Linked DNA regions of Homo sapiens: regions 1, 2, 3 and 4 are each linked to region 5. Evidence: fine-mapped expression QTL. A gene starts in region 5. Each other region holds a variant in brackets. All regions are shown on one strand. Distances are between the middles of the regions. Region 1 has its middle 94 kb from the start of SLC9A9-AS1. Region 2 overlaps SLC9A9 (solute carrier family 9 member A9). Region 3 overlaps SLC9A9 (solute carrier family 9 member A9). Region 4 overlaps SLC9A9 (solute carrier family 9 member A9). Region 5 holds the start of CHST2 (carbohydrate sulfotransferase 2).

Evidence for each region.
Region 1: its variant is fine-mapped to the expression of CHST2 in whole blood (TOPMed, PIP 0.97).
Region 2: its variant is fine-mapped to the expression of CHST2 in whole blood (TOPMed, PIP above 0.99).
Region 3: its variant is fine-mapped to the expression of CHST2 in fibroblasts (GTEx, PIP 0.96).
Region 4: its variant is fine-mapped to the expression of CHST2 in whole blood (INTERVAL, PIP 0.93).

Annotation. Positions count from the first base shown.
Region 1 is chr3:143,244,795-143,251,361 of GRCh38, forward strand. No RefSeq gene overlaps it. Among named protein-coding and RNA genes, the nearest start is that of SLC9A9-AS1, 94 kb to the right of the region's middle. The variant AGT/A (reference allele first, on the strand shown) is at 3,139.
Region 2 is chr3:143,598,512-143,605,078 of GRCh38, forward strand. All of the region lies in intron 6 of SLC9A9 (solute carrier family 9 member A9), which reads right to left. Among named protein-coding and RNA genes, the nearest start is that of SLC9A9, 250 kb to the right of the region's middle. The variant T/C (reference allele first, on the strand shown) is at 2,489.
Region 3 is chr3:143,299,653-143,306,219 of GRCh38, forward strand. The region is part of intron 14 of SLC9A9 (solute carrier family 9 member A9); the gene reads right to left. Among named protein-coding and RNA genes, the nearest start is that of SLC9A9-AS1, 39 kb to the right of the region's middle. The variant G/C (reference allele first, on the strand shown) is at 3,362.
Region 4 is chr3:143,397,730-143,404,296 of GRCh38, forward strand. The region is part of intron 12 of SLC9A9 (solute carrier family 9 member A9); the gene reads right to left. Among named protein-coding and RNA genes, the nearest start is that of SLC9A9-AS1, 59 kb to the left of the region's middle. The variant A/G (reference allele first, on the strand shown) is at 3,666.
Region 5 is chr3:143,116,163-143,122,729 of GRCh38, forward strand. CHST2 (carbohydrate sulfotransferase 2) reads left to right here and starts at 3,609. Exons shown (of 2, transcript NM_004267.5): 1 at 3,609-4,379; 2 at 4,482-6,567. The coding sequence starts at 4,655. The coding sequence ends at 6,247. RefSeq lists enhancers at 2,665-3,166, 2,842-2,971, 3,167-3,666, 3,952-4,001, 4,325-4,966 and 1 more and silencers at 3,432-3,721, 4,212-4,261, 4,292-4,341, 4,392-4,471, 4,532-4,731 and 1 more.

The DNA of each region.
Region 1 (6,567 bases), 130 kb after region 5:
TCCTCGGGAAGGAACCAGCTTGCCTACACCTGGGCTTTAGGTCAGTGAGACTGATTTTGGACTTCTGACTCCTAGCACTGTAAGGTAATAAACTTGTGTTGTTTAAGTACACAGCACACAAGGTAATAAACTTGTGTTGTTTAAGTACACAACACAAGTTTATTACCTTGTAGTAATTTGTTACAGTAGCCATAGGAAACTGAAACAATGTTTCAGACCAAAGCTTAGGTGCTGGAGGAATTTTTTTCCTCCAGCAAATGCCTTCTGCAACCACCTGCCGCACAGTGTTTTAATTACACATTTGTGAAGACATACAGCTAACTCCCCTTGTTTCAGGTGGATGGACCTCATGCTTCTCTCTGGCTCTAAGGAGGGAGATAATAACTTTTGGTTTGCGTGCATCCTCAGAAATCCTTCCCTTTACTTACAAGGCCTTTACTCTCCTTTTGCTACTTGAGTTGTGCTAGTCACCACTTCCCCGACCACAGCAGGTGCAGGTAAAAACTGTCCACTTGCTTGTTCACTGGGTTTTACTGTGACAGAAGGGTTCTCATCAGTTGATGAATTCAACGTTAACCATTTAATTCACACTTACATGTTGCAATGTGAAGATATCCATAGAAGGATAGCCAATGGGTCACTGAGTGTCTTGAAGGGGGGACAAATTTATCAGAGGGCTGCCTCAGCCGGACAGGAGGGTGACTTGACTTGGAATGTGACTTGGGTATTGGAGCCAATTAAACTCAGAAGAGACTGATTATGCTGCATTTTATGTCTACAATTGGACATATTTAATGCAAGTGACTAACATGAATACTTGCCGTTTGGGAGCCTTCTTCTCTTTAGTAGGGGAAGAAGAATTATTGGAAGGTTTCTTAGTAGCTATGAAGTCAGGGCAAAGGGAAGTAGTAATATAGAAGACAGTCTTAGAGATATTTAACTCAGGACAGCTGTTTTCAGATGGAGGCACTCTTTTTTAAAAAATGAAATGTTTAGTGAAGACCTGTATGTGGGAGTTATCAAGGGAGAGCTGCTCTGGGTGCTGCAGGGGTGGGAGTTCCAGAACGGCCACAGGGTTCCTCCTCCTCACATGCAGTGGCCTCTGAGTGGCCTGATGGTTCAGTCCTGCACCATGGCGGAATAGACGTCCTTGGTGTTATGGAGCTGGACAGGCCCTGCTGACTGTGGGCTCTTTGGGCTTCCCTCTTTGTGTTCCAGGCTACCCGCTCCCCTTTGTGTTCCAGAGTCTGTTCTTAAACTGGGTACAGTGAAATTGATTCAGATTTATTTTGCTAAATTACAATCACATTTGAGTTTTGTTTCTCTGAAATTACACCCTGGCCCCCTTGATTGGAGTTTTCAACATTCCCAATCTTTTCAGTCACACGTTTACAATCTTTTGGTTTATTTCCACCGATGGCTGAACTCATGCATTATGCATGGGTGTTGCTGGTGGTGTCTCAGAGGGAAAATTCATTTCTGAGTGTTTTCTGGGTACCACAGTCATTGCCATGTTTTATGCACATGTGTGGTGATGGTCCCCATTGGGGGCGATGCCTACTCTCCTAACAGGAAAACCACCCATCAGCCTAGCAAGAATGGGGGGGCGGGGTGGGGGACAGAGAAAACATGTTTCATGTTTCACTTTTTCCCCAAATTCCTGAATGAGGAGGGATTCTAAGTGTTGAAATTAGATAGTGTCAGAATCAAACTCAGCTTCAAAACTTGAGAAACTCAAGTTGTGATTCTCTGTTCTGTGGCAGTGCAAAATCCTCACGTTTCTCACAAACCTATATGAGAAATACGATCTGAACGTTCTGGTACAACTCAACTGACAATGAGTACCAGCGTCTATCTTCCATGCTTGCACTGAGTTCTGCTTGACCTCATACCCATGTTCTTTACTCCAATCAGTTGCTATTTCAGCTATAGTTGGTTGTGACTTCTTTCTTGTAATTGTGTTTAATGGAAAATGATGTTGAAGCAATAATTTTCTTTTTGCCAAGTGTCCCTCAGGGGCTGCCCGTGTATTACAGCTTCTGGTCTCCCTCTTTGCTCCTTCTTGCTTCTGCCCATGACCAGCTCTTCCCATACCTGGTTCAGAATTCCTATGAATGGTGGAAGAGGAACCACCTGTGTCCCAGAGGAGGAACAGTTAGGCCGGCACACACCTATTTGTGTGTGTGTGTGTGTGTGTGTGTGTGTGTGTGCGTGCGTGCACGCATGCATGCATACTTTGGTTACATTCCATATGGTTTAAACTGTTGTCCTGTCTCCCAGGGAATCAATATTTATTCAGAGACCCTCAGGCCTACCCCTCTCCCCACAGAGAGCTCTCTGCAATCTTATGCAGCTATGCTACCTGCCTTCAGCACTTGAACTTGACCTGCTAATGCTGCCCTCCAGAATATCAGCCCAGCATGGGAGATGCATCAATGGGCTAATTACATACCATAGAGGAAAGTTTACCCCGCAGAGCAGGAACTCTTTTGAGGTTAAAGCCACCGTAAGTGCTTGTGAAATGCTGACGCCTGGAGAGAAAGAGCTAATAATTCCCCTGTCATTTCCAGGCCACCAGAGAAAGCCAAATCTAGCTAGTGTTAGAGGGAGGAGCTGTCATTGTAACAAGTGTGATGACTAGAGGTCATCTTAATTGAGCTGCTAAATGGAGTTGTATTTTTTTTTCCTTTTTAATGTAGAAGGGTCACTGTTTTTATGGCCGTACTTGTTTCATCTTTCTTATAGCTAGCTTGGCTTATTGGCACAGTTGAGTGTTGTGGACTGAAAATTATTAGGAGTATTTTTTTTTTACCTTCAAGTGGAAAGCTGCCTGTACTTCTTCCTAGGCTATCTGTTAAAGGTACTTAGTATAACGTGACTTGTGGTAGGTGAGAGAATGAATTGGATTTGCTTGTAGCTTCCTGGCATGTGTTTCTCAATGTTAGCGCTATATGAGCTACCTACCAGGAATTTGGTATGCCTGTAGACCACTATTATCAAGGAAAAAAGGATTCACTACTACTTCATCGTAAAATTGAAACTGCATTTAAAATGCAAACCATAATAGTGTTGTGCCAGTAAGAAACATGATACAGTTGATGATCTTTCACCGATATGTCCATGCCCTGTTTGGTGGAG[AGT/A]GAGAGCCACAGATGAGTTTTTCTATCTGGTCCATTGCTATTCCTAGTTTATACTTCCCTAAATTTGAAAATCTTAAGTCGTAATTATATCTTTGGTAATGAAGGGACATGGAGGATGGCCCTGTCAGATTGTTCTGAGTATCTGAAAAGTGCATGACCTCCAGATTCTAGAGGACTTTCTATAGTCTTGGTGCCCACCAGCCCTGACTGTCCTACTGTAGAAATCTGGATGTTTCAACAAGGAAGGTAATGGTGAATGGATCCCTCATTTATTCTTTGGTTGTATTTATAACTTTTCTTCCAGTTCTATCATAACATTTAGATGTGGCTTTGAAATATGCTCATTAATAAACCATATATTTCTCTCTCTCAGAAGACAAGAAAATAGTTTTAGAGAATAGCCACTTCCAGGGATGGAGTTGTCTGAAATTTGTTTTTCAAAACTCCAGATGTCTTATCCCCGACGTTAAAAATATGGTATCTCAGCTCTTGAAGTGATAGGTTCAGGACACCGAATGTAAACTGTTGTATGTAACGTGAGCAATGCAGTCGAAATAATTAGCTTTTAAAAAAATGACCTCTTGGCATCCAGTGTCATGAAGTATAAAGTTATGTCTTATCACCCGCTTAAACTGTGAGCCCCTTTCCCCTTGACATTTAGATCATTTTGGTGAGTCAATGCCCAGAAGATCTTCACATGGCATGCTGAAAAACTCTACACTCAGGGGCCACGATTTTGTGTGATAAGCAACTTTAATGTTAAATCAAGATCATGGCTTAAGATGCCATCTACAAGCCAATGATTCCCATGAAAAGAAAATTTCTGTTGTAGCCTTCTGGTCCCAAGGAGGCTGAGAGATGGAGCAGGGAAGAGGAGCACTCGTCCCCATTGAGATGGCCTCAGGGGACCCAGCCTAGATCACAGAACTCCAAGTGACACACAGACACATGAGCTAAATAAATTCTTACTGTTCGTGTTGCTGAGATTTGGTAATTGTTATGTAGTTGACCCAGATACCTTATTTCTATTACGAACTCTGGAGTCTGTTTTCATGCAGCAGCCGGAATGAGCCTTTTAGTCATATTTTTCATTTACTTATTGCCCCCCGTGATTGGCTGAAATTGGTTCTCACTTCACTATGAATAAAAGCAAGGACTTTACCAGAACCTACCTGAACTGCCCCTTCCCCCTACTGGCTTCCACTCTGACCTCATCCTTCACAGCTCTCCGCACTGCATGCTCTGCTCTGGCCATGCTCTTTCCTTGCTGTCCTTGAATGTTCCAGACAAGTCCAGACACATCTCCATGGTTCATTCTCTCATCTTTAAGTCTTTGCTCAAATGCCATCTTCTCATAGAGGTCTAAACTGATTGTCTTGTTTCAAATACTAACATCCATCCTACTTCCCATCCTATATTTTCTTACACTGCTCTATCCCCCCAACCCCACTGTGGTGCTATCACTTGGTAATATACCATATAACTTACTTTATTAGTCTGTTTTCACACTGCTATAAAGAACTACTGGAGACTGGGTAATTTATGAAGAAAAGAGGTTTAGTTAGCTCATGGTTCTGCAGGCTTAACAGGAAGCATGGCTGGGGGGCTGCAGGAAACTGACAATCACGGTGGAAGGCGAAGGCAAAGCAAGTGTGTCTTGCCATGGCCGCAGGAATGGCAGCGGGTGGGGTGGGATGGGATGAGACCCCTGCCCCTTCACACTTTTAAATTATCAGATTTCCTGAGAACTCACTGTCATGAAACCAGCATGGGGAAAACTGCCCCCATGATTCAGTCACCTCCCACCAGGTCCTTCCCTTGACATATGGGGATTATAATTCGAGATGAAATTTGGGTGGGAACACAGAGCAAAACCATATCACTTAGCTACATCATTGTTAAAGTCTGTCATCTTCTGCTAGAATGTAATCTTTATGTGGGCAGGAACAGTGCCTGGCATATTGTAGGCACTTATTAAATATACCTCTTGACCTTTATTTAGTCAATAAATATTGGTGAACACTGAGGTTCTCTCTGACTAAAGCAGGGTGTGGAAACACATTTTCATTTGCCCAGCAAAGACCTTCCTGGCCACCCTAATAGTATTTTGTCAGGATGTTCCCAACGCATCTTTCCTGGTCTGTCTCACCAGCACAGGGCAATCATCTTCAAAATGGAAAGCCTTTTCTTCACGCCTGTAATCCCAGCACTTTGGGAGGCCAAGGTGGGCAGATCACCAAAGGTCAGGAGTTCAAGACCCGCCTGGCCAATATGGTGAAACCCCATCTCTACTAAAAATACAAAAATTAGCCAGGTGTGGTGGTACATGCCTGTAGTCCCAGCTACTTGGGAGGCTGAGGCAGAAGAAGGTTGCAGGGAGGTGGAGGTTGCAGGCAGCCGAGATCTTGCCACTGTACTCTGGCCTGGGCAACAGAGTGAGACTCTGTCTCAAAAACAAAACAAAACAAAGCCTTTTCTGTAGCAAGGTAATATGGTTTGGCTCTGTCCCCACCCAAATCTTAACAGGAATTGTATCTCCCAGAATTCCCATGTGTTGTTGGAGGGACTCAGGGGGAGGTAATTGAATCACAGGGACCGGTCTTTCCCATGCTATTCTTGTGGTAGTGAATAAGTCTTATGAAATCTGATGGGTTTATCAGGGGTTTCTGCTTTTGCTTCTTTCTTATTTTCTCTTGCTGCTGCCATGTAAGAAGTGCCTCGTGCCTCCCGCCATGATTCTGAGGTATCCCCAGCCATGTGGAACTGTAAGTCCAATTAAACCTCTTTTTTCTTGCCAGTCTCGGGTATGTCTTTATCAGCAGCATGGAAATGGACTAATACACAAGGGCTTTCAGTAACAAAAGACAAAATGTTATTGTGCATTTTTACTTCATTTATTTATCTCACATAAGCTAAGAGCTGATTTATACTCATTGGTGGTTTTGTCCAACTGAAAAGTGAAATACTAACTTGCAAACAAACATGATCAAAAAGGCTTTTCAGCTTGAAAATTGTGTCCTGGAGTTCACTTTTGTTTCCCCCTCTAAGCATAATCTTTTAACTGGTTCAATAGACTTTTGGGCAAAATTCTAGCTTGGCCCATTTTTGCTGTTATACAACTTTGAATAATGTTCCTATGGCTTATGCTCTTCAACTGTGGGCCAAATTTGTCAATTTATATTGGAAAGTATATTAGTTCATTCTCACACTGCTATAAAGAATACCTGAGACTTGGTAATTTACAAAGAAAAGAGGTTTAATTTGCTCCTGGTTCCGCAGGCTGTACAGGAGATATGATGGATTCTGAGGAGACCTCAGGAAACTTTAAATCGTGGTGGAAGGTGAAGGGGAAGCGGGCATTTCTCACATGGCAAGAGTAGGAGGGAGAAAGAGAAGGGGGAGGTGTCGCACGCTTTTAAACAACCAG
Region 2 (6,567 bases), 480 kb after region 5:
CAGATTCTTTGTACCAGTGAATCACTATTTACACTGTGATTATAACTTCCTCCAATAGCCTCCTTTGAAAAAGACACCGTCTTCCTCCAAATCCGCACATGCTACCCCGGAACATTACAAGAACAAGCACTGCTGATGGGGCTCAGTACTTGTTTTTCTGAAGTCCCGTGGCCTCCTACCTACATGTTATTAAAATGCTGCAAGCAAGCAAGTCAACACAAGTTTTTAAAATCATTCTCCACTTTCCAGTTAGAGGAAGCGTGCTGCCTGCTGCTGCCCTTGTCCTTTAATATGGAGGGAGTTTGGTTTTCTCTGTGTGTGGTCTGGTAGGCACCAATAAGGACAAAAAGATACCTGTCAAGCTCACCATTTCCTGAACAATGGTATTATCTTTCTCAGGGAACAGGAATCTTTTGTTTGTTTCTATTTTTGTTTTGAGGCCATTGATTTGCTAGCCAAGCCAGATGCTGAAAATTATGTAAGTAGAACCCACAGGTCGCCTCAATCCCTCATTCTAAACAAGATTCAAATGAGTTACCCCCTCACTGACCTGGAGAGCTATTTCTTCTGTCACATAGGTGCAGTGCACCAGATGGGACTGTGGCAGAAGAATAGTTAGGTGAAGAAAGCCTACCGTGTGCCTCATGGGGAAAGGATTTTAAAAGAAATTATATTTCCTGTCCATAGTCCTCCATCTCATATAACTATTTAACTCGTAAAAAACATAATTATGTTTCTGAATTTCTTTATATTTTGCCAATCAGTTACAGCTATTTTGTTGTTACTAAGAGCATTGAATTATAAACAGTATAAAACGCCAAATGCTCAGGAATCTAATAATAAAAGGACTTTTCCTGGAAAGCATAAGTAGTTCTTTTCTTCTATAAGGAGAGCCTCTGTTTGCAAAGAAATACGGCTGTGCTTAACATCTGAGTAGTCAGCAATCTTAGTGGTGGTGGTTGCTATTAATTGTAGTTGAGATGTGACCTACACATAATCCACAGAAGCCGTGGGGCTTTATGAGCACAACAATTGCCTGTGTTTGATTCTACCTTGCCAGGGATACTCTCCAAGATCCTGCAAAATATCATTTCTCTCCTTTGCACTATTGAGATGCAAATGGCGCTACTGGCTGACCACCGACAAGCTTTATGAGCAATAAGGAATCCAAATTCCTTCAAGGCATCCTTAAATATTAAAATGTCATACATAAACAAAATATGTAATGAACTTCAAATAATTACAACAAACAAAAATCTTATGCGTCCCTCAAGACCTGTAAGAAATCAAAGGGTCTCAGAATATTTCATCTGTCTTATCATCGAAGTAAGATATCAATGCCTCTTTCCATTTAAGAAAAATCCCAGAAACCAAATCAAAACAAAAAATTCTGGAGAATGCACTTGTCCAACATAAAGCAACTAAACAGTCACTGTCCCGATTATTGTTCTCTGGCGTTTTACCTACCAGCCCGGTACTGCTTCCAGATGTTTTGCTACCTTTTTTTTTTAATTAAAAAATTTTTTTTATAATTATACTTTAAGTTCTGGGATATATGTGCAGAATGTGCAGGTTTGTTACATAGGCATACATGTGACATGGTGGTTTGCTGCACCCATCAACCCATCATCTACATTAGGTATTTCTCCAAATGCTATTCCTCCCCTAGCCTCCAACCCCTCAACAGGCCCCGGTGTGTGATGTTCCCCTCCCTGTATCCATGTGTTCTCTTTGTTCAACTCCCACCTATGAGTGAGAACATGCGGTGTTTGGTTTTCCGTTCCTGTGTTAGTTTATTGAGAATGATGGTTTCCCATCAACGATAGATTAGATAAAGAAAATGTGGCACATATACACCATGGAATACTATACAGCCATAAGAAAGGATGTTTTGCTATCTTAAAGAGAAGCAAGAACTGAAAGAAATTCCCCTGGATGGACAAGAATTCTATAAGTGTGTGAAAAATACAACAAGTAGAACTCATTAATTTATCAGATTTTAATATTAACACATGGGTAAGTTGAGCTTTAAAGCTAATAACTCTACTATTTCTAAATATCAATGATCTGCAGAGATTGGTGACATTCTTATTCCCTACATAGAATTGAGATCACCCTCCCAAAACGCAATAAATCAGAGAGGTTGATCAGCATGAAAATGTCTATGTTGGTCAGCAACCATGGCTAAGGAAAGAATTAGGAAATTATTTCATAGCTATCATGAGGAGCTAAAATAATGAAATATAGGAGATATAGACTGTTAAATTAACCATAAGGCTGAAAACATTTTCTCCACAAATGTTTTCAACTACTTCAAATCCTCTTTTTCACTGTGCCCAAGGCTAAGTGAGAGGAGACCCACTGGGCTGCCTCTCTCACTCCTGGCAGGGCTTGCTGGAGATCAGAAGAATAATGCAGGGAGGAAGTTCTGTGTGATTTATTTCAACTGAGCATAACAAAGTGGTGAATGGGGATGTAAGCGGAAATG[T/C]TGCAAGTGTATTTGTGTAAGCACACATTTCATTTCTCTTAGACATGGGAAGTTGAGGGGAGAAACAGTCTCAATAATGACAGTGGGGGGTTATTTTTCAAAATGTCTTGTCTTTGATGTAATTCTGATATTAATGTTTCTATTGAGATTCATGTTTATTCATTCAATGAATATTTACTGAGTACCTCCTGACAGCCTGGCCCTATTGTAGGTGCTGGAGATATGCAAGTGAATATGACATGGAAGGACTCAGGGAGATAGGCAATAAATATACAAATTAACAATCAGTCTTTTGAGATGGGAAATCATTTGTAACCCTCCCCACCCCCAAATTTAAAATAATTCAGAATTTAGAATTACAAAGGGACTTCAACAATATCTCATCTGCATTTCTTCATATTCCCATGAAATAAATTTTGTGGTAAGCTTCATTTTGTAGAATTTGGAATTGAAATTCAGTCAAGTTGAATGACTTGGCGAAATCCATTTCAACAGTCAATGGGGGAGCCAGCGTTTCTATTCTGCAGAACCTCTGCTCTTTCACTGTATCACACACCACCTCCACAGATTGTTTTTAACATTTGTGCTTCTATGTGCAGTTTCAAAATCTGGTATTAAACCACTTTCCAAATTCATGTATTTAACCCTCCCACCTCTGGTGCCAACTCAGCGCTGCAGATTTCAAATAAATCATTGCTTTCAAATTAAGTTTACTATAAAGAATCTATTGGAAGGTAATTTGATAAGTGGCTACATCAGATGAAATGTGAACATGACTTTGCATGATCACTGCCCCTTCTATAGGCTTTTCTGGAGGAAACACCTTCACTGGTCTCGAGACACTCTCACTTTGCTACATGGCATTGTGCCATGCCCCCCACTGTTCCAACATCCCCCCTCTACCCTCACTGTTCCTGCAGTACCCCTTGCTGCCATCATCACTGCACTCACACTCCCCTGGCTCAGACTTGCTCTGCAGTTCCTGGAGAAATTCTACTTTGTTGCCTTTCCAGCCTATATACAGCAGTATTCCCATGTCCTTTTTTGTTTAAATTCTTAGCCAATGTCTTTCTCCAAGTTTTAAAAACTAATTGTTCCTACAGGTTTTATTTGTCCTTAATATTATCATGTAAGAAATTAACTTTGGTGTTGTGTCATTTATTGTCTCAAATCAGCCAAGAGTTAGAGGCGAGCAGGGCTGTTTGACCACATTGTTTTGGCATGTCCAGGGCTTGTTCACTATGGGACCAGCAGCACGTAGCCCAGTCTGGAGCAAAGAGCCTCCTTCCTGTGCATGCTCCTGACATCAGCTAAGGTTCTGGCTCAGGCCCAAGAACTAGGTCAACACATTTCAAGATCTCAACGTGAGATCTGGGTGAACGTCCACCTCTTAAGATGTTCTCTCCAGTGAGGAAGGCCAGCTGGAACAGGTCAATTGCTCGAAACATTCACTAGCTGCCTTTACAAGGACTTAGTTAATTTTAACAATTCTTTTACCCTCTAGACATTTTTAATGCTTAAATATCTTAATTTAACTGTTTAATAATAGTTATTGTACTTTAATAAATATTTCATTTATTTTAAATGTTTTAATAATTTCTTTTAAAAGACTAGGAAATATAGACACAAATGGGGCAATTCTATAGTCTAAAATTATAGAGGTTAACTCTGTTTTTCCTGGTTGAATATGGTATCTGATGCTTAGCTCTGTATTATTGGGTAAGTTGCTGAAGCTACCCGTACAATAGGGATAATGATAGCACTTGACTTCCCCAAAGAAACCCCTTTAACCTTGGAAAACGATTCCCTTCATTCAGTTTCAACTCTGTCCCTGAGGGCCATTTAAGATGCAGCCCTCCTAAAAATATAGCATTTGAAATGGCATTTCCAAGATTTGTGGATAAGAATGCTGATGACCACATGTGAGCATAATGGCGCTTTAAAGCCAAGATTTCCTCTTCCATAGTCTATGCACAGAAATCTGCAGCCTCAAGCTCTTAAATTCTTGAACACATTCAGGTTTTAAGGAAACTGTTGACTTTATCAATGTAGAGATGGGAAAGAAATATGCAAACTAGGCCTGCACCTTTTCATACCATTTGGTCCAGGTACATTTGTCTCCTGGGATTGGAATTATATACATTTCTCACTGATCAATAACATAAATATTGACTTTCACCCATAGAAGTCATCTCTGAATGGTCTTCATCCAATACTTAAAAGTGCTCACATCTGAGATTCTAGAAGGACCATCTAAAGTATGTGAGATCCAAGCATGCTTCCAGGTTACTGTGGTAGGCAGCCTTCAAGATGGCCCTCAATGATCCCTGACACTTGGTATTCACGCCCTCTACATTCCTCTCTCACATTGCACTAGGGTGGTCTGTGTGACCAACAGAATTGGCTGGAAGTGACAGTATGTCAGTTCTGAGATTAGATTGAATCCATTTTGTTGCTCTTTCATTCTCTCACAATATTTCTCTTGAATTATTCTCTCTGGGGAAAGCAAACTCTTGTGCAGCCCTGTAGAGAAGTCTGTGGCAAGAAACTGAAGTTCTCACTCAACAGCCATATGAGCAAGCTTGGAAGTGGATCCTTTGGTCCTGGTCAAGTCTTCAGAGGCTATAATCCTGGCCAACAGCTTGTCTGCAACCTCATGAGAGACCATAACTAGAACCAGTCAGCCTAAAGAGATCTTTAGAAACTGTGAGATCATAAATGTTTGCTATATTAGGCAGCAAAGTTGTGATGTAATTTGTTACACAGAAATGGACAACCGTTACTTAGGCTCTACCTTTGTTTCATAGCAGATCACCAGAAACAACCTGACGTGAGTATTTTAGCAGTGGCTTTATTCAGTTAGGGGTCACTGTTTTACTTTTTGCTTTTACAGAGGGGTGACTTTTAGAAGGTGCATTTGAAGAATTCTTCTGTGTCTTTTGTAAGACTATAATCAAGAACATTGTCTATGACGTCACTTCATGCTTTATTTCTCACAGAATTCGATAACAGAAAAAAACACATTGTTGATGACTTGAGTATTTTCTTTAACTGACCTGCAGAATCATAAAAACTGACGTGCTTTCCTTTTCACTCTGTTGCCAGGATGCTCTGAATAAAATTTAGTTCTAAATTAAGGTCTATTTTGTGCCAGATACACATTTTTTTTAAGAAAGTGATACAGTTTTTTACTTTTAGTTATCCTTTTTGAAATAAATATTCCTTAGCCCTGTAAGCCCACTCAAGTTCTTTATGGAAGTAATTAATTCAAGGTACTGTGAATTTGTTGATTCCCTGTTACATGCCAAGCAGGGTGCGAAGCTCTGGAAACACATAGATGAATAAGACAAGAAGTAAGGTTTTCTCTTATGGAGCTCAAAACCTAGTGATGAAGAGCTATGTGGAGAACCAAGCATAAAACTAGGTGACAGACACAGTCTTCATAGAGTAAATGTAGCAAGCTGGGAGTGCTAGTGAGAGAAGATGACTCCTGAGTTGGGATGGCAACCAGAACTGGGCCTGATGAAGAAGGAGAGGCTGGCATTAAGGCTCAGAGAAAATAATAGTTGTCTAGGATGTGGTGAAGAAGTTTAGTATGACTGAAGTGGGGTGGAGTGAAGGTGGAAGTATATAAAGTGCAAATCAAACACAATTAATATGCCTCCGAGTATGTGAGAACACAGTTTACATGGAAGAGATTGCAATACAGTAAAAGCTACTTTTTCCACATTAGGTACTGGCTAAATTATAAATAGCTAACCTACCAGAGAATAATAAAGCCATTTAATAACAGTTTACAGTACTCCCACTCAGCTGTGATATTGTTGAATTCTTGCAAAACAAGAAAGAAGCAATACTTTAGAACTGGAAACATGTCCAATTCTTATTCATTGCCCACAGATTCTGGCAAGTTTTCAATGAGGGCCCCTCCGGTTGAAACAAGTTAGAGACTGAATTCTGGAGGCTCTGCTTCTGCAGGAACCATTAAGCGTCACAAAGGGACAAATGCACCAACATGAAGCAGAAGTGAAAGCCCCTTTTCTGCTTGTCTAAACCACATGGAGCGCATTATGTTCATA
Region 3 (6,567 bases), 180 kb after region 5:
CAGGATGGTCTCGATCTCCTGACCTCTTGATCCGCCTGCCTTGGCCTCCCAAAGTGCTGGGATTACAGGCGTGAGCCACCACGTCCTGCCACACATTTTTATTCCTTACAAGTTTCCAGATGATACAAAGCTCCTGGTTATGGGCCCATACTTTGGAACCACTGCTTAGTGGGAGGAGGCATGCAGGCAGTTGGGACCCCTGGGTTCTGAGCCTTATCCTGGCTTTAAAGAGCTAGATGACCTCAGGTAGGTCACTTAAACTTTAGAAGACACAGTTTCTCTTTTGTCCAACAATTGGCAAAATGTATGATTTGGAAAAAGCATAATTTAGAGCAGAGATCGCTAATCTTTTCTCTATAGTGGGTGGCCATCCCAGACTCTATGTGAGGGCTGAGGGGAACAAATGTCTTGGCACTTGTAGCCCATTTGGAATGTTTGGCACACAGGTTGAGAAAGTCTGACTGAGTGGTTAAAAGCGTGTGCTTTTAAGTCCTGGAAGCATTAGTGTAAGTCCTCACTTTGCCTCTCCAGGTGGTATTTTAGCTGTTTCACCTAGGTCTGAGCCTCAGTTTGGTCATCTGTGAAAAGGGACAGAGTATTTGCACCTCTATCATAGGGTTGTGGTGAATATCAAGAGAGAATGCATGTAGAGCACTTGACATGCATATTAATTCTTATTAGCTGTTTTTATTTCTACTTCTAAAATTCTGTGATTTGCCCTCCTGCCCATTCTGCACCTCATTGGAAGAAGCAGATAAACCTCTTCAGTGTTTGGAAATGTATAAACTTTTTTAGGGGGAGTGAGGAGTGCTTTAAAGGAGTGCTTCTCAATGTTTAAAATGCATTCAGATGCCTGGGGATGTTGTTATAATAAAATGCAGATTCTGATTCAGTAGGCCTGGGGTGGGGCCTGAGATTCTGCATTTCTAAGCAGCTCTCAGGTGATGCCTATGCTCCTGATCCACAGAGCTATGCTATGAGTAAGGCTATGCTTTGAGCAATGGCTCTTAAACTCTATTGTACATCAGAATCTTTGGAGGGAACTTTTAAAAGCCCGGAGTCTGATTTGGTACAGGGTGAGGCCTGAGCATCAGGTTTTTTAAAAGTTTCTCAGCAGCCAAGTTGGAGTACCACTCTTTAAAGCACTCTTTAGTAAAACACAGGGAAAAGTTGAATTGATTTGTGTTCCAGAAGCTGGAAGTAATTAATTTCCCTTCAAATAGGTCCCCTTTTCCCTAGGAGATTTGCAGATTTGCACTGAACTATGGCCAAAATAAGAACCTTTTAAACCTTTATTTTAAAGGCAAAAACCTGTTTAACATCTGCATTCAGGAAGCTTTGTGGTCCAGTAGCTCAGAAATAGGCCCAGGAGAAACAGCATTCAGCCCCTAATCCTCACCACTACCACCTTCACCATGACCTTGGGAAATCTTTTCATGTGTATGTTTCCATATTTTCTCATTTGCAAAACTTGGCTAATCCTGCAGAACGGCCACAGGATGTGTGTATGGTCAGATGCAGCTTTAAAATCACTCCTGCTGCCCATCTCCCAAATTGTTCTGATTTGCTTACTAAATTTTGACATTTGCGCAAAATGCATACTTTGTAAGTCTTGGAAGTTGGTAATATTCAAACTATAGTCTTCTATCTCTCTCCCTCTTTTAATAGTACCAACTGCTTCCTCTTCTATTCACACATAGTTTAAGTTTAATGCACCCCAGAGCTGCAGAGAAATCAGCAAGAGGGCGGAAATGATTTTTTAAAAGCTGTGGCATGAAGATTGGCCTTGCAGGATTAGCCTTTTTCTTGGCCCTCTAGTGGAAAAGTCCACCTATACTTGAGGGTGGAGGTCATGCAGACAAAAAGCCTTCAGTAGGCAAGAGTAGAATGGAATAGCTGGGTGTTAGGGCCATCCTCTGCAGAAGATGAGACAGACGCATTCTCCAGCAGCAGTCCTTAAATGTTGGTGTGTATCAGAATCACCTGGGGATCTAGTGGAGCCCACAGTGACTCAGGCCTTTGAAGTAGTATAGGGCACAGTCCCTGTGTTTTTGCAGCTTCCCCTAGTGATTCTGACACTGACCAAAGTGTGAGAACCACTGTCCTAGAGTGTTCCGCTTTCCCTTGGTGTTTTTCAGTTAGTGTCTTCCCAACCACATTTCTAAGCCCACCCAAAGCTGAAAAGCTTTCTTTTTCTGGTGTGCAAAATACTAGTTGTATATGTTAATTTTCAAGCCACTCTTAATGTCAGTGGAGGTGTTTTTTATGAAACCAGGAGGGGCCAACCCTTGCAGAACTGCAGAGTGGAAATAAAAGAGGTTCAGAATCCTCATTATCTCAACTTGTCCTCCTTCACCCTAGGAAGAGTGAGAGGGTTGGGGAGAGAGGTGTTGCTAGCTGCTGGCCTGGTATATCTTACCTGGCACCTCTGCTAGGGGCTTTAAGACAGTGTTGTCCCACCTTTGTCACAGCGGGCCAGGAATCTTTTGCAACTCTGGATTGTGATGCAGAGGATGAGGAGCACGTTGCCTTGAGCATTAAAGCTATGGTGGGTGGGGGATGCTGGAGGCATCAGCCCCCATTTCCTCTGGATGATTGCCCTAGTATATACAGGCAATAGGCTTATACATCTTTTCTTCACTAGCACTCAGCATACTGCCCAGAATACAGTAGGTGCTTAATGAATGCTTGTCTAAAAAGATGGAAAATCGGGTAGCAGAGAAGAACCAAAAGATGCCAGAAAATAGAAAGAAAAAAACATTGAAGGTGAAAATGAGGTGTTTGTATTAATAAATATTAAGAGGAATGAATTAAAGGGCTGAAAAAGCCCAAGAAAGGAGATGCAGGAAAGGCTGGGAGTCCTGAATGAGGTTTGTGTGGAGTGGCGGGGAGGAGGAGAGAGCCCCTGAAACAGCCAGATAAGAAGGAAAAATAGCAGGAGGGAAGGAAATAAGAGCAGTGATGGAGGGACAGAGGAAAGCAGTAAAGAGCCAGGAAGATGGCGAGAGGGAGAGCTGGCAGAAAGGACAGATCCTCCAACCAGCCAGCAGGTTTGGTCTTATTCCTTACTGGGAACAGACAGAATGACTGCGTTTGACGAGGAGTGACTCAGGCTCAAGACAGGCAGAACTGGAGGATAAAGCCAGATGGGTACAAGTGAAGTGGGTCACTGTCAAGAATCATCACGTTTTCTGGAATTCGATGTTTTCAAATTGCATAATCCTCCTTGTTCTCAATTATCCTCCACAAGAGTGTGGAGTCCCTCCCACGTTACAAGTCCATCTCAGTTAAGCCCCAGACATGCACTTCTAACACCACGGAGGGCTTCTTGGCAGCCTTCCCTGCCCGCCCTCTCCACATC[G/C]TGCCCTTCCCCTGCAGAGGGACAACTGGCTCTCCAGGCATTTCCCTTCCGGACTTCCAGTGTGACACACACGCTCTGGCTGCTTTCCTGTCCCCAAAGACTCTTACTCCTCCAGGGCCACTGCCAGCCTAGTCACAGCCTTTGTACAAATTAGAGAGGCCCACCTGGATCATGGGCAGATGAGAACAAGGCACAGTCTGAGACTCAAAGAAGTAGCTGTGTGTTTGTGTTGGGGCTGGGGAGGGGTGTGTAGAGGAGTGTTCAGGGAAAGTTTCAAATAGAAAGTGATATCTGAACTGAGTTTCCAAAGGGGAACAAATGTTTTTCCTGTTCCAGGTGGGTTTTTTTCTTTTTCTTTTCTTTTTTTTTTTTTGAGGGAAGGAGGGAAGGAGGCAAGGCCTCTTGGGGGCTGGAACAGCATGTGCAAAGGAGCAGAGGTGTGAAACAGCATGCTATCCAATATTGCTGGTGTGTTCTTGCATGAGAGGCAGCAAGAGGAGGACTAAGTGATGAGAATGAGGTTAGACTAGGTAGGAAGGGCCAGGTGTCTGGTTTTAAGCAAGGGAAAGACACAGTGAGACTTGCATTTGAGGATGATTACTTTGGAAAGATATTATTTGCTTTTTACATATGAGCATACTAAACCTCAGAGAGGTATTTATAAGTGACCTGCTTCATGTGACACACTTAATAGCGGAACTAGAACTTGACTCCACCTTGTGCTAAACCAGGGTCTCCTTACCTACACTTCAGGTCTGGATGACCTCTGAGATTTCCCTTGCAAAACTTGCCAGGCCCATTTGACTCCTCCCAAAAGCCAAAAAAGACTTAGATTCAGGCCGGCAGAGGCACTGCCCTTGGTCCCCTAAAAAGATGACTTAAAACATCTGTTTTCTCCATTTCTTAACAGAGGAACTTTATTCATTCCAGGTTAGTCTTTAGAAAGCAAAACCAAAATACTCCACTGGACATTTACTGGCACAGATTTCCAGAAAACATATATATACTGAATGGGGGAAAGAGGATGAAGAGGTCTCTTAGACCTTTGTGGGAAGATGGCAACTAGAGTCACTTCTTAGTCACCCACTGGAATGGTGGATAAGTCAAATTGTATCCATTGTTTTGGGTCTCTTCCTGCCACATAACTTCATAATAGGTCTGCTTATGATAAAAATGCAATTATTTCAGTATTTCTCCTTTTTCTGCCTCTCATACATAGGTGAGATTTCTCCTAGATAGATGGCCTCAGGGAGAAGAGAGGTGAAAAGAGCCATTAAAATCCAAACTCTGGTTGTCTGAGCCATCCAAGAAACACCCACGTTAATGGCTGTGCCTAGGAGGCGCATATGTTTGACTCCAGAAGCAACAAACATTCTGGTTAGACATGGGATGTATTCCCCTGTTAAGACAAGGAACTGAGAGAGGAATCCAAAGCCTCTTGATAAGTTTGAGTTTTACAAGAGAGGCACTTTGGAATAAGAGGGGATGTTATTGCCTTGTTCAGACATGGCTTCATCTTGGCAGCATTCAGGCCTTGGGTTAAGAACTTGGTTTCGAGTTGACAGACTTGATAAAAGTCCAGCCATGGCTGGCTCATAAACGAGACACCCAAGATCTATCTTCAGAAAAGCCAATATATTTCTATTATCACTGCTGATAAGGCTGATTCTCTTTGAAGTTTAATAATGACTCTTCCAAAAATGTTCCCTCAGACATTCAAAATCCATCTTGTATTAGTTTTCCTAAAGGCTGGTTTAACACCCTCCCATTTCCTATTACGACTTAAGTCCAGTGGTATTAAATGCTTCAGTCTTGACACATGGCTCTGTTTACCTGCAAGCCCAGGTGATGAGCACCACCACCCTTAGGGCTCAGCACCCCTATACACTTTTCTGCAGCCTAGCTCCTCCTGCTGGTGTTTATAACTCAGGGTCAACAATTAATTTGGGTCTATGAATAATAACTCTGGAGAGTACTTTTATATTCTGATATCTGAACGTGAACCAGATATCAACATTATTATTAATTTCTGGGATTGAGAAAATGATTCCCTTCCATCTACTAAGGGAGTGATAAGGCAAAATCACAACTTCTATATCAATATCTGTTTGCTCAAGAATCTTAAATGCCAACTGATATGGGGCATCTGGGTAGGCTGAGAAAGGGAGGGTTGAGGGCAACTTTTCGAGAAGCTGTATTAAGCATTTCTTCGTTATGTTCTAGCAGGTGACTCGTGTTCCCTCCTCTTAACCCCCTCACTGAATCGCAGTCACTTGGTTAGATCAGCTGCTGCTGATGGGAATGGACATGCTGAGTGCTAAGCCCTTGATGTTCGCTACCACATTCATTCTCCTTGACAGTGATAGAAGGTAGATGATACCGTTTCATAGCTGAGGAACAGGCACAGAGAAGGAAATGTCCCAGAGTCACACAGTTCATAAGTGGTGGCAACTAGGACTTGAGGATTTGAACTAGGTCTCTCTGACCTTAAAGTCCCAAAGGCAATATTGTTGCTTTGTTAAAAATTCACAACCACTGGGGTTTCAACGTCTTTATACAGGGATGCTGTGCTGGAAGTGAGTTGACAGGAAGAGAGAGTCTACAGAAGAGGCTGCCTATGAAAACACAAATACTATCATGTGGAATGGTCTCAAGGAAGTCTTTTGGCAGATTTGACAGATCTGTTTAATGAAGATCAATTCTATTTAAAGCCCCTCACCAAAACTAACTGCCCATCACCTCATTAAAAAAGAAATGACTGAAGATAACAAGGGGTGTGTCTTTGGCCAGAAGTGGGCTGGCTGGAAACACGGCTTGAGTTACAGAACTGTCTCCTCAGCTTCTTTCCTGGCTTGTCTCAATTTCTCAGCTGTCAAGTGATGGAAAAGAATGCTTGCTATTCATCAAATTTGTATTTATTTGCCAATGGACAAAACGGTCTAACAATTTCCTTGCGGGATATTCTAATTGACAGTTTAAGCAGATTATGAACATTTGATTTTTTCCCCCTTGTATGACCTGAAAAATCATAAAAATGGAATTTCTTTAAAAAAAAAACCCTCTAAAATGTGAGACTGACAAATATGAACATTATTCTCCTTATCGTTCTAATCTAACCTTTCTTCCTGGACTGGTACAATGCTAATGCACCATCAGGGAGGCAGTGGGGAACATAATGGGGGCACTGGACAGGAAAGCAGAGGTTT
Region 4 (6,567 bases), 280 kb after region 5:
ATTGCTGCTCTTTGATGTGCTCAGGCTTCAGTGGGAAACCTGGAAGGGAAGGAGCCTTAATGGGAATGCATTCTCTTGATGCAAGGAGCATATTCTCCCCATGAACATCATTTACAAAATCACAAGTATACTTTGACAATAAGGGGGGAATGCATAGAACATATATTTAATATATTTAAAGAACTGTAAAACTCCTCTATGCAATAATCCAGAAGAACATTTAACCCAGCCAAAGCAAATATTTTTGTGGAGTGATATCTTGGAAAGAATCCTTAGAAGGCAACAACAAAGTTTTGCAAAATTGATGGATAGGTACCTACAACACAATTCATTCAAAACATGAAATTCTAATGGTTGATTCTGAACTTCCCCCCCGCCACCACCTTACCACCACATTGGCTTTGACTATTCATAGGGAAAGATGGTTTCTAAGATGTTTTGAGAAGGCTTCCTCCCAAGACATGAATTTCCCTAACTGCCAATGCCTAGACTTCCTTAGCACAGGATAAAGCTCTTCATTCCTTGTTGAGGATTAGGCCTTACAAGGCAAGGACTTGGGAGAGGTAATATTTGAGCTTGTATTCACACAAGATACAAGTGAATCAGACTTATTCCTGAGAGCAGAAAGAGATGGGAACAAAAGCCTAAGGCCAACAAAGGTATCTCCACCATGAAGCGTGGAAGGCAGGCAGCGGGTGAAAAGGGAGTTGGAGACACAAAATTATCATAGTAACAGCCAATATGTAGAATCTACACTAGGTAATATTCATGTATTATATAAAACATATGGAGTTTGGGAAGAGGATCTGAAGTTATTGTAACACCATGTATTTTAGTAATTAAAAGCAAAAAGAGATTTATAACCCTTTTCTTTATATTAACCATTAAAAAGCACTTGCAATTGGTTACTTTAATAATTTTGCACCAGTAAATCTGTTGCTTCAGGCTATCTATCACCAACATCCAGCAGACAGTACAGAATTATTAACCATGTGCACTGAAAACATGGAAAAATAGCCAAAGAAGATTGTTTCACCAACACTAATATATCACTAAAATTAAAATTAAAACAGCTTTGGGATATATAACAGTTGCCAAAACTATTGTTTAAGCCCACAATTGGAAGCAGATTTGATCTACAATCTCTACAAATAACTGAAACCTTATTTTCATTTGGAGCAGTTAACACTCTGTAAGACCATATTATATTATAGACCATATTAAGACCAGATGCTATTAATAATAAATTCACAGATTTGTTGTATACACACACACACATACACACACATACATATATATGTACATGCACATATATATCTATATTTCACTTCTATTTTTACTTTTTAAGTGAAAAAACTTCTTCCCTAGTCTCAGAAGAGAATCAAGTCAAAAATACGTCTTAATAATGCATTATCTTGTTTTTTGCTAAAAATGAGTAAATATCTTAATTTTAAAAGGAAAGTTGACAGAAAGACAATGGGTAAGCTAGGAAGCTGCTACTGCATGACACATAAAAAGAGAAGAAAATAATTTTAGTTTCTTGCTGAGACGGATTAAAGTAAATCACTAGAAAAATAATGTTTTTCTCTGGTCAAATCTGTTATTCACCATTGGGCTGAAGTGCATGCTTGCGTGCATGACTATGTTAAAAAGAAATTAAATATTTAAAATTTTAAAAGGGGAAGAATTCATGGTTAACACTAGAATTATATTGAAAACTGCACCTTGATTTTGGAATCAGTGGTTTAAAATCAGGAAAGTGAAAGAAAATTGGCAACAATACTATTGGGAAGAAGTTGTCTTAGAGCAGAAGAGAAAGGCAAAGAGGAAAAGAGTAGCAAGAATATGTTGTAAAACAGGTTCTGAAATTATCATGAAGACTACGGAAAGTGCACAGCATGGAAACAGAATTAGCATCAATTTGGCGGAAAATAACATAATGAAAGTTAATTGGATGCTTGTGGCTAATGTAACACTCAGGCTGTTTTGGCCTATCATTCTAGGAGATCATGATGACAGCTTAAACAACTGTTGTATATGAACTGATATTTTTCCTGACACCACACTATCGACATCCTAAAAGCAGGGCAGGTAGACTATTTCATTCATTCTCTCCTTCACTCACTAACTCACCCACTCATTCATTCATGAAATACCAGTTGAGAATATATCAAGACCATTAGTATATGCTAGATATTGTGGTAGACATGAAAAATTTGTTACACTCATATATATCTTTAAAGTACATACGGTGAGTTTCATCAAACCTAGATGTAGTTCATGATAAGGCATACTATTACTTTATGTACATCTAAGAAGAAAAACGCTGTTAATTATATTTGTGACACCACTGATTATGAGACACATCTTGACTTCAAAAATGCTAAAGTGTGAAAAAACGTGCAGCTGGAATAAATGGATACCCACACAAAATAATAAAAATCCAGGGTTCAATAATAATGTCAAGCCATTATACATACTGGCCTCTGGATATTTCATGTATGGCTAGTATGTTATTTGCTGTCATTGGGGAAAAATTCAAAAGAGTATTTTGAAATCTTTCAAACAAAATATTCTTTTTATGCTTACAAATTAAAAGATAATTCATGCTCTACTACTCAGCCGTAAAAAAGAAAGGAATTAATGGCATCCGCAGGAACCTGGATGGAACTGGAAACTATTATTTTAAGAGAAGTAACTCAGGAATGGAAAACCAAACGTCGTATGTTCTCACTCATAAGTGGGAACTAAGCTATGAGGACAAAAAAGCATATGAATGATACATTGAACATTGGGGAGTCAGGGCAAAGGCTGGCAGGTGGGTGAGGGATAAAGACTCCAAATTGGGTCCAGTGTATACTACTCGGGTGATAGGTGCACCAAAATCTCACAAATCACCACAAAAGAACTTACTCATGTAAGCAAATACCACCTGTTTCCCAAAAACCTATGGAAATAAACAATTAAAAAAACTTTTGACTGAATTTATGCAAAAAAAAAAAAAAAAAAGGTAATTCATTCCCTTTTAAAATTCTGTGTCAAGCAACTTTTAGTCACTGGGTGGAATCAGAGCCAAGACTAGAGTTAGGCAAGGGAGACATCCTGTCTCTCAGGATCGTGCAAGTGCTGAGCATTTGTATGAGCCCGAGAGTGAGTGCTTCCTTAGATTTTGCATCCTAGGTACCTTGTTTGCCTCCCCCAGTCCTGATCGTGGGTGAAGTAACAACTTTGCAATTGTTTTTAATATTTTACCCTTGGATCTTCTGGACTGCTGACTTTTTCATTTTTCCCTCTACATCTACTCTACCCCCTTTTCTCTACATTATCCTGGGCTCTGGAATGCAGACCAATGCAGATGGCATCAATTGGGTTATCGTGCTCTTTGGTCTTGAATAGGTTTAGCCAATAGGAAGTACTGGCAGGATACTGGAAGGAGAGAGGAGAGTGAGACAGGGTATCTATTTCTTCCTTCCTGCCAGGTCACCAGGCTTGTCTGTGTTCTTCTATCAAAGCCTCAGCTCCTTAATCCCTCTCTATCTACCCCACCCAGCTACCCTCTCTGGGTTCTGGTTAATATTCCCATTTGGGTATAGGGTGGTAACTGCTCTCCATTGATTCCAGTCCTGGGGTACTGCACTATTCCTTGTTTTCTAAAACCAGCTCTT[A/G]TAATAGTTCCTTGCTAAGTTCCTTTAATTTACTCAGCTTGAATGTGCCATTGTTTTTCCTACCTGGCATCAGACTAGTGTAGAAAGCTATTCACATTAGTAAGCATGCAGCAGTAAAAAGGTTTCACTTAAACTGGAAACTAAGTTTTCAGGGACTTGAAATTTCTTAAGAAATCCATAAATATAATAAATCTTAAACATAGCTTTGTTTCCAGCCTTAATGTTAGAATTGTGTCTTTAAATGTTTCTCTAAGGTACCTGAATATTCATGTACAACTCGACATAGACTGTTCCTATTCCTAGGCTGGATCAGGTTTTCACAAGAAATTCACATACAGGTTGTGGCATCTGACAATGGCAGATGTCAGGAGTGCAGATCATATCATAAGATATAGTAGGACCTACACAGGAGGAATGAAAGTGCTCCTGAACAGAATCCACTTATGATGCCTTAAATCAAAATATGCTTTATTAAATGCTCCAACTTAAACCTATGAATTCCATACAGATGTTAAGAGTTCTCAGAAGTCTTTCTAGAAGCTGAAATTCTACCCTAGTGAGGTACATCTCACCATCTCAGATGGAGAAATCTAGATTCTACTGGCCTTCCTGATGATTACCTTGGTGAAACAGTTCATTTTCATGGTGAAAACACCAGTCTCAGAACTGTAAGTGGAAGGAAGCTCAGATGATCGCACCCTACCATGTCATTTTAAAGATAAGAACACTGAGACCCACAAAGATTAGCTAATTTGAGAGAAGTTACACTGGTAATAAGAAACAGAAGAATTAAACAGTTTTTTTAAAAAAATTTAATTTGGCATGCTGCCTACCTCAACGAATAAAAAGGAAGAAATTATAAAAATTTAAAAATCCTTTGGCATGAATAGACTTTTATGAGAAGATTTAAGTGTAGAAATTATTGGAATATACTTATTGCTCGAGATGTCCATATATAACAATGTAAAGTGAACTTGAAATCTGCAAATATTATTGCAGTGTGGTAGAATGTGGCATTTCTCAAACTCTAGCAATTTACTTAGCACCTTTGTGTTTTTTTTTTTTTTTTTTTGTAGAACTGAAAGATACTTTCTTTAATGTTTTTAACTTTTCTGTCAGTTTTTGCTTCATGTATCCTGGGACCTTGTTGTTGAGTGCATCTATGTTTATAATGGTTATATATTCCAAATGAATTAACCCTTTCATTATTATAAAGTGTTCCTTTTCATCTCTCCATATGTCATAAGTCTATTTGTCTGATATTAGTATACTACTCCAGATCTCTTGTGGTTATTGTTTGCATGGTGTATCTTTTCCCATCCCCTTTCCCTTCAGGATATTTGTATCTTTGAATCTAGGTGAAATTAGTTTTTTTTTTTTTCAAATTCAGTCTGACAGTGTCTGCCTTTTGATTACATTGTTTAGTTCATTCACATTTAATGTTATTGATATAGTTGGATTTACTTCTTCCATTTTGCTATTTGTATCCTATGTTTATTTGTTGATTTTAAAAAATCATATTTTTTGTTATTTTCTTAGTGGTTGCTCTAGGTGTTACAATATACATCTCAACTTCTTAGACTCTGCTTTGGATTTATAATAACTCAATTCCAGTAAGATGTAGAACATTTGCTCCACTCTTACTTACTGAACCAGAAATAAGATTTAACAACATCCTTTGTGCTGTCATATATATTACATCTATATATGTTATAAACACAATTCGGTGTTGCTACTTTATATCAATCTTGCATCTTTTTAAAAAATTAAGAGTGAAAAAAGTATATTTACAAAGTTTTTCTATTAATCTTATTTACAACTTCTGTTACTCTTTATTTCTTCCTGTGGATTTGAGTTACTGTCTCATGCCACTTCCTTATTCCACTATAGCTTCCTTTCCTCACTCCTCATTTGTGCTATTATTGTCAAATACATATCTTTATATCCTATAGACACAATTGAATTTTATATTGTTTTTAGTTTTAAAAAGAAAGGAGATACAATATGTAATTATGCTGTTTTTTATAGTTAATACGTAGTTACCTTTGCCGGCACTTTTTTTTTTCCACGTGGATTTGAATTGCAGTCTTGTGTCATTTCCTTTCATTAAAAAAAACTTCCTTAGTAATTATTGTCAGGCAGGTATGCTAACAACAAATTCAGTCTTTATTTGGAAATGTGACTTTGTTTTCCTTTCTGAAAGATAGTTTTGCTGGGTATTGGCTTCTTGCTGATAGTTTTTTAAGCATTTTATGTTATCTCACTGCTTTGTGGACTTCATTAATTCTGATAAGAAGTCAGATATTCCTATTATTGGAGTTCTCTTGTGTGTGATGAATAACTTCTCTTATTGCACCCAAGATTTTCACTTTGTCTTTCAACACTTTGAGTATAATGTGTCTTGATATGGCTTTCGTTTTCCCTACTTGTAATTCACTGAACTTCTTGAAGGTGTGGATTGATTTTTAAAAATCATATTTGGGAGGTTTTCAGCCATTATTCCTTGGATTATTTTTTTCTGCCCTTTCTCTTCTCCTTCCAAAACTTCCATTACACACATGTTGGTGTTCCAAATGGTATCTCAGAGGTCTCTAATTATCCGCTCATTTTTTCTTCTTATTTTGTTCTTCTGATTATATACTTTCTAATGATGTATCATCAAGTTCACTGACTATTTCTTTTTCTAGCTCAAATATATAGTTGGGCCCTTTTAGGAAATTTTTCATTTGTTATTATACTTTCACCTCAAGAATTTTTAATTTTTTGTATAATTTTTCTTTTTTCTTTTTTTTTTTTGGAGACAGAGTCTCACTCTGTCACCCAGGCTAGAGCGCAGTGGCGTGATCTGAGCTCACTGCAACTTCTGCCTCCTGGGTTTGAGTGATTCTCCTGCCTCAGCCTC
Region 5 (6,567 bases):
GGCCTCCCAAAGTGCTGGGATTACAGGTGTGAGCCACCGTGCCCAACCTCTTTTTCTTTTTTTTTTTTTTGAGACTGGGTCTCACTCTGTTGCCCAGGTTGGAGTGCAGTGGCACCATTATGGCTCACTGCAGCCTTGACCTCCTGGGGTCAGGTAATTCTCCCATCTCAGTCTCCCGAGTTGCTGGGACTACAGGCATGCACTGCCACACTTGGCTAATTTTTTTGTAGTTTTTGTAGAGATGGGGTTTTGCCATGTTGCCCAGGTTGGTCTCAAGCTCCTAGGCTCAAGTGATATGCCCACCTCAGCCTCCCAAAGTGTTGGGATTACAGGCATGAGCCACCGTGCCCGGCCATAAGTAGTCTTGTATCTTTTTGAGATTGTTAAAGCAAGTTGTTTTTCCTTCCTGTTAGAACTTTATCATTTCATCTCAGTTTCTAAACTAAGTAGAGCGGTTACTCTTGGAGGTTTTTGGGCTGTGTAATGGGTTCATGCATATTCATTATATTAAAACATAGGACATTTAAAAGGGCCACTTGGACTAACAATGGCAGCATATCTTAAATCAAGGATTATGAGTAACCTGAATCTATAATCTCAAGTTCTATTGAAAATGCATATTTGTTCAAAATATGAGGGAGTGAATCTATCTTGGTGCCCAGGGGCAAACATTTTCCAAAGGTGAATCTTCTAGGATTCACACAGATAGGCCCAAATGGGAACTGTTCAGGTAACCCAGCCTTGCATCTTTCCCCAGTTCAGACTCTGGAAGAAAGTCCTTGAAGATCTCTGGACATTTGTCCAGGATTAAGCAAAAGCCACAGCAAGTTTCTTTCACTCGCATCAGTGTGAAGAGACCACCAAACAGGCTTTGTGTGAGCAATAAAGCTTTTTAATCACCTGGGTGCAGGCGGGCTGAGTCCGAAAAGAGAGTCAGTGAAGGGAGATAGGCGTGGGGCCGTTTTATAGGATTTGGGCAGGTAAAGGAAAATTACAGTCAAAGGGGGTTGTTCTCTGGTGGGCAGGTGTGGAGGGGGGGATCACAAGGTGCTCAGTGGGGGAGCTTTTTGAGCCAGGATGAGCCAGGAGAAGGAATTTCACAAGGTAATGTCATCAGTTAAGGCAGGACCTGCCATTTTCACTTCTTTTGTAGTGGAATGTCATCAGTTAAGGCAAGGACCAGCCATCTGGATGTGTACATGCAGGTCACAGGGGATATGATGGCTTAGCTTTGGCTCAGAGGCCTGACAGTTTCCAATAGAACATAACAGGCAGCAGAGAAGACAGAGACTGAAAGAGCATCCTGGGGGAGATGGAATTGTGACAAACTAAACCAGTGAGCCGAAATTAAGGCTAGCCCTGTGGCATGACTGGCTCTTGTGCAAGTGACATTATTATGTGACATATTATATGTCTGGGTCATTACTATGCTAAAATAAGTAGATTAAAATGAAAGGAATTTCCAAACAAATGCGGGAAGGAAGGCATTATGAAGTTTTCAGATGTCATTAGCTATAACAAAGTTCAGAATTAATCATGACACCATGCAAAATGGGAAAAATTTGCAAGCAAGGAGAGGGTGGAGATGCCAGAACCCGTAAATTTATGCCAGCTGAGCACTGTGGGGGCACCTGGCAAATGGATTTACTATTTTGCCAACACCAGTAAAGTGTTACAAAATTGCAAACGGAATTATTTCTATGCAAACAATTGTTTTTAAAAAGGGTCCCTACATCGACTAATGCAATTCAGTTTTTTTCTGGGTAAGCACAAAGCCAGAAACTAAATGAAAAATATTAGAAATTATTTTTCTTGGAATCATGTTGAATATTAAAATTGAGATTTACTTTCCTCCCCAATTCCCTCTCTCTCCCATCAGTCTTTTCATGCACCAATGTCATTTTAGTTTTCGTGGTAAAAGAGGTGGTGAAAAAGGGGCAGGGGCATTTGAGAGAGTAGGCGAAGGGAGGCTGGGGATTCCAGAAAAGGAAAAGATGGGGAGTCGCTCAATTAAACTCTACCACCTTCATCTGTTAACAGGGATTCTTGCCTGTCTCGACCCACTTCCAGAGGCAATGCCATATTATTTGAGAAAGCTGGATATAAAATTTGAGCTCTGCTGTCCTTGTCCCAATCCCCCTCCCCAGGAGAAAAAATAAGCTGAACTGTACTCGTGACATTATGGGTTTTTCTGGAAAACAAGGATAAATAAGTTTTTTGAACATTTTTCTCCCCTGAAACTAAATCCGTAAGAGAGTTAAAAACCCGTGGAAAGCGAGTTAAGTCACTTTTCAAGTCTTTGTACTCAGGGGATTCTGTAAGACTCATGGAAGAATAATGGCGCAAACAGCAATATTTTAATGTTAGAACGGTCCTCTGAAAAGTCTGCCCGAAACGCTACAAAGATAATTGTGCAGTAACTTCTAAAAACTCTACTGGGACAGGAGGCAACAAAACTCCGGATCAGCGAGAGCTCTGTTTATCCGAGGGTGCTGAGCCTCAGGCCCCACGGAGATTCCCTTTTCGGCACTTGGAGGCCTGAACTCAGGTCTAACCTTTCGTGTGCGCGCTCTGATACTCAACCACCGTTCAGTCTCCGGAGGCTGTTACAACTGTCCCCATTCTACAGATGAAGTTGAGGCTACAGCTTAGTGTTCTTGGGGAGGGAGGGAGTTGGGGGGAGAGAGAGACGCTTTTCCTCATAACCTTAAACAAAAGTACTTAAACCTAAAGCAACTGAAAAATGATTTTCTTTCAACAACGGTGTTTCCTTTGGGGTCAAGTTCTTTGATCTCATCTACAAAACCAAGAAGCGGGACAAGTATTTTTCTGCAAATTAGAACGGGGCGTTCCCCTCCCCCATCACCCCAATTCCAGAGGACGTCAATCACAGTGGACGCAGCACCGCGAGCGGAAATGCGGAGAGCATCGGGGCTCCGCATGTGGGGCACAATGAAACAAGAGCAGCCCCGGCCAGAGGTCCAGTAAAGCGGAAAGACGGTCCCGCCCGCACACCCCTCCGGAAAACTGAAGCGTCTCCTCTGACCCCCAAGGTCAGAAAGATTTATTACTTCCTTCGAGAGGGCGCAGCCACAGACCCACTAGAGAGGGCGGGCAGGGTGTCGGAAGCCAGAGAACGGCGCTCCGCGTCCTCCCACCGCTCCAGGGCGCAGAGGTGTCCTCAGTGCCCGGAGAGGTTGGCAGTGTCGGCCCCGAGGGAAGCGTGGAGCGGACGGCCGACAGGGGATTTCTGCCCAAACTTCATCACCAACTCTTTCTGAGAGCAAAAACATGGGGCCGAGTCCGGCAGCTGCACGCAGAATCCAACTCTCTGGCAGCTCTCGGCACCGACGAGCTCCAGATCCCGCGTTCGCATCCCGGCGCTTTGCGCGCAGAGCTAAGCCTTCGGACCCGTGGACTGCAGCCCCCGCGCGTCGCGGTAAAGCGGGTCGCGTCTCCAGCCCCCGAGGCGCAGCGACGGTGGGAGCCGGCTCGGCGTTGGGGGCGGGGGCGGGGCCGGCGAAGGGGGAGGGCTGCGCGGCGGAGGGGAGGAGCCGCGGCGACAGACGGCGGCGCGCACCAACCGGGCGCCGGCTGGCAGGAGCCGCGCAGAGGCTGGTCCGAGCGCGTTGCGGGCGCCCGGCGTAAGGGGAGTCGGGTAGCAGCATCCTCCTGGGCGCCGCTTTCGCGCGGCGGCGGCGGCTGCGGCGGGGTCTTTCTTTGCTTAAATACCTCGTTGGCCAGAAGCGCTGGTACCGGGGGCGGGTTGGGTCGGGTCGGGCAGTGCTGCACACCTGGGTTTCCTTGCCTAGAGCTGTGTGTTCGGGGTCCTTTGGTCCAGTCGGAGGCTGCGGAGCGGCGGGGGTTGCCTGCGCTGTCCGCCCGGGCATCCTCCCGGTGATGGAAGCAGCCGCCGCCGCCGCTGCGGGGTCGCGCTGTGCCCCATCCACCGCTGCCAGAGAGGTGGGAAAATTCGCCGCACGGAGGCCGAAAGCGAGAGGGGCTGCGCCGCTATGCCGGGAGCTGAGTCCCATATAAGCCGCCCCCAGCCATCGCCCCCAGCCGGCTTCGTTCCCCTGAGCGAGACAGGAAGCTGCGGTCCCGAGAAAGCGGAGGAGACGTCGCTGGAGCCGGGAGGCGCCGGGTTCGGCGGAGCGCGGAGCGGGGCTCTGGGCCGCGTGAAAGTTTTTCTTCCCGAGCCGCAGGGCGCCCGCTGCCCGGAAACTGCCCAGGGATAAGTCGGCCGACTCCCCAGACCCCTCGAAGGTGCGGGGACCCCCAGCGGAAGCGAGAGGGAGCGAAATCGAGGAACGAGTGACAGCCGGACAGTCCGCCGGGCGGTGATCCGGGGCCGCTCCCGGGCGCGCCCTCGGCTCCAGGTGAGCGGAGGAACCGGGCAGAACCGAGGGTGGGCGTTACTTAGGAGGAGGAGGCTGGGAGGGAGATTGGGGCGCATCCGCTCACTCCGCTTCCCCTCGCAGGTCCTACCCGGAGCCGCTGCCATGGGAGAGCCAGCCTTGGGCGCTGGGGACCAGCCGCCGCGCCCGCCTCGGAGTCGCGGCCCGAGTCCCGGCGCCAGCAGCCAGCCCGCTGCGTCCCCTTCCCGGGCTGCAGGGCTGCCTCCGCCGCGCCGCCGGCCCGGATTGTGCCTGTGATGAGCCGCAGCCCGCAGCGAGCTCTGCCCCCGGGCGCGCTCCCTCGGCTGCTCCAGGCTGCGCCTGCAGCCGCGCCGCGTGCCCTGCTCCCGCAGTGGCCCCGGCGCCCAGGACGCCGCTGGCCCGCGTCCCCTCTCGGAATGAAGGTGTTCCGTAGGAAGGCGCTGGTGTTGTGCGCGGGCTATGCACTGCTGCTGGTGCTCACTATGCTCAACCTCCTGGACTACAAGTGGCACAAGGAGCCGCTGCAGCAGTGCAACCCCGATGGGCCGCTGGGTGCCGCAGCGGGGGCAGCCGGAGGCAGCTGGGGGCGCCCAGGGCCGCCTCCGGCCGGGCCGCCCCGTGCTCATGCCCGTTTGGACCTCCGCACTCCTTACCGCCCTCCCGCTGCCGCCGTCGGGGCGGCTCCTGCAGCCGCGGCAGGGATGGCGGGGGTTGCGGCCCCTCCAGGCAATGGCACTCGGGGCACCGGGGGCGTCGGGGACAAGCGGCAGCTGGTGTACGTGTTCACCACGTGGCGCTCTGGCTCGTCGTTCTTCGGCGAGCTATTCAACCAGAATCCCGAGGTGTTCTTTCTCTACGAGCCAGTGTGGCATGTATGGCAAAAACTGTATCCGGGGGACGCCGTTTCCCTGCAGGGGGCAGCGCGGGACATGCTGAGCGCTCTTTACCGCTGCGACCTCTCTGTCTTCCAGTTGTATAGCCCCGCGGGCAGCGGGGGGCGCAACCTCACCACGCTGGGCATCTTCGGCGCAGCCACCAACAAGGTGGTGTGCTCGTCACCACTCTGCCCCGCCTACCGCAAGGAGGTCGTGGGGTTGGTGGACGACCGCGTGTGCAAGAAGTGCCCGCCACAGCGCCTGGCGCGTTTCGAGGAGGAGTGCCGCAAGTACCGCACACTAGTCATAAAGGGTGTGCGCGTCTTCGACGTGGCGGTCTTGGCGCCACTGCTGCGAGACCCGGCCCTGGACCTCAAGGTCATCCACTTGGTGCGTGATCCCCGCGCGGTGGCGAGTTCACGGATCCGCTCGCGCCACGGCCTCATCCGTGAGAGCCTACAGGTGGTGCGCAGCCGAGACCCGCGAGCTCACCGCATGCCCTTCTTGGAGGCCGCGGGCCACAAGCTTGGCGCCAAGAAGGAGGGCGTGGGCGGCCCCGCAGACTACCACGCTCTGGGCGCTATGGAGGTCATCTGCAATAGTATGGCTAAGACGCTGCAGACAGCCCTGCAGCCCCCTGACTGGCTGCAGGGCCACTACCTGGTGGTGCGGTACGAGGACCTGGTGGGAGACCCCGTCAAGACACTACGGAGAGTGTACGATTTTGTGGGACTGTTGGTGAGCCCCGAAATGGAGCAGTTTGCCCTGAACATGACCAGTGGCTCGGGCTCCTCCTCCAAGCCTTTCGTGGTATCTGCACGCAATGCCACGCAGGCCGCCAATGCCTGGCGGACCGCCCTCACCTTCCAGCAGATCAAACAGGTGGAGGAGTTTTGCTACCAGCCCATGGCCGTCCTGGGCTATGAGCGGGTCAACAGCCCTGAGGAGGTCAAAGACCTCAGCAAGACCCTGCTTCGGAAGCCCCGTCTCTAAAAGGGGTTCCCAGGAGACCTGATTCCCTGTGGTGATACCTATAAAGAGGATCGTAGTGTGTTTAAATAAACACAGTCCAGACTCAAACGGAGGAAGCCCACATATTCTATTATAGATATATAAATAATCACACACACACTTGCTGTCAATGTTTTGAGTCAGTGCATTTCAAGGAACAGCCACAAAATACACACCCCTAAGAAAAGGCAAGACTTGAACGTTCTGACCAGGTGCCCCTCTTCTTCTTTGCCTTCTCTTGTCCTCTTTCTCCTATTTCTTACCCTGTCCTCCACCTGCCTTCCATTTTGAAGTGGGATGTT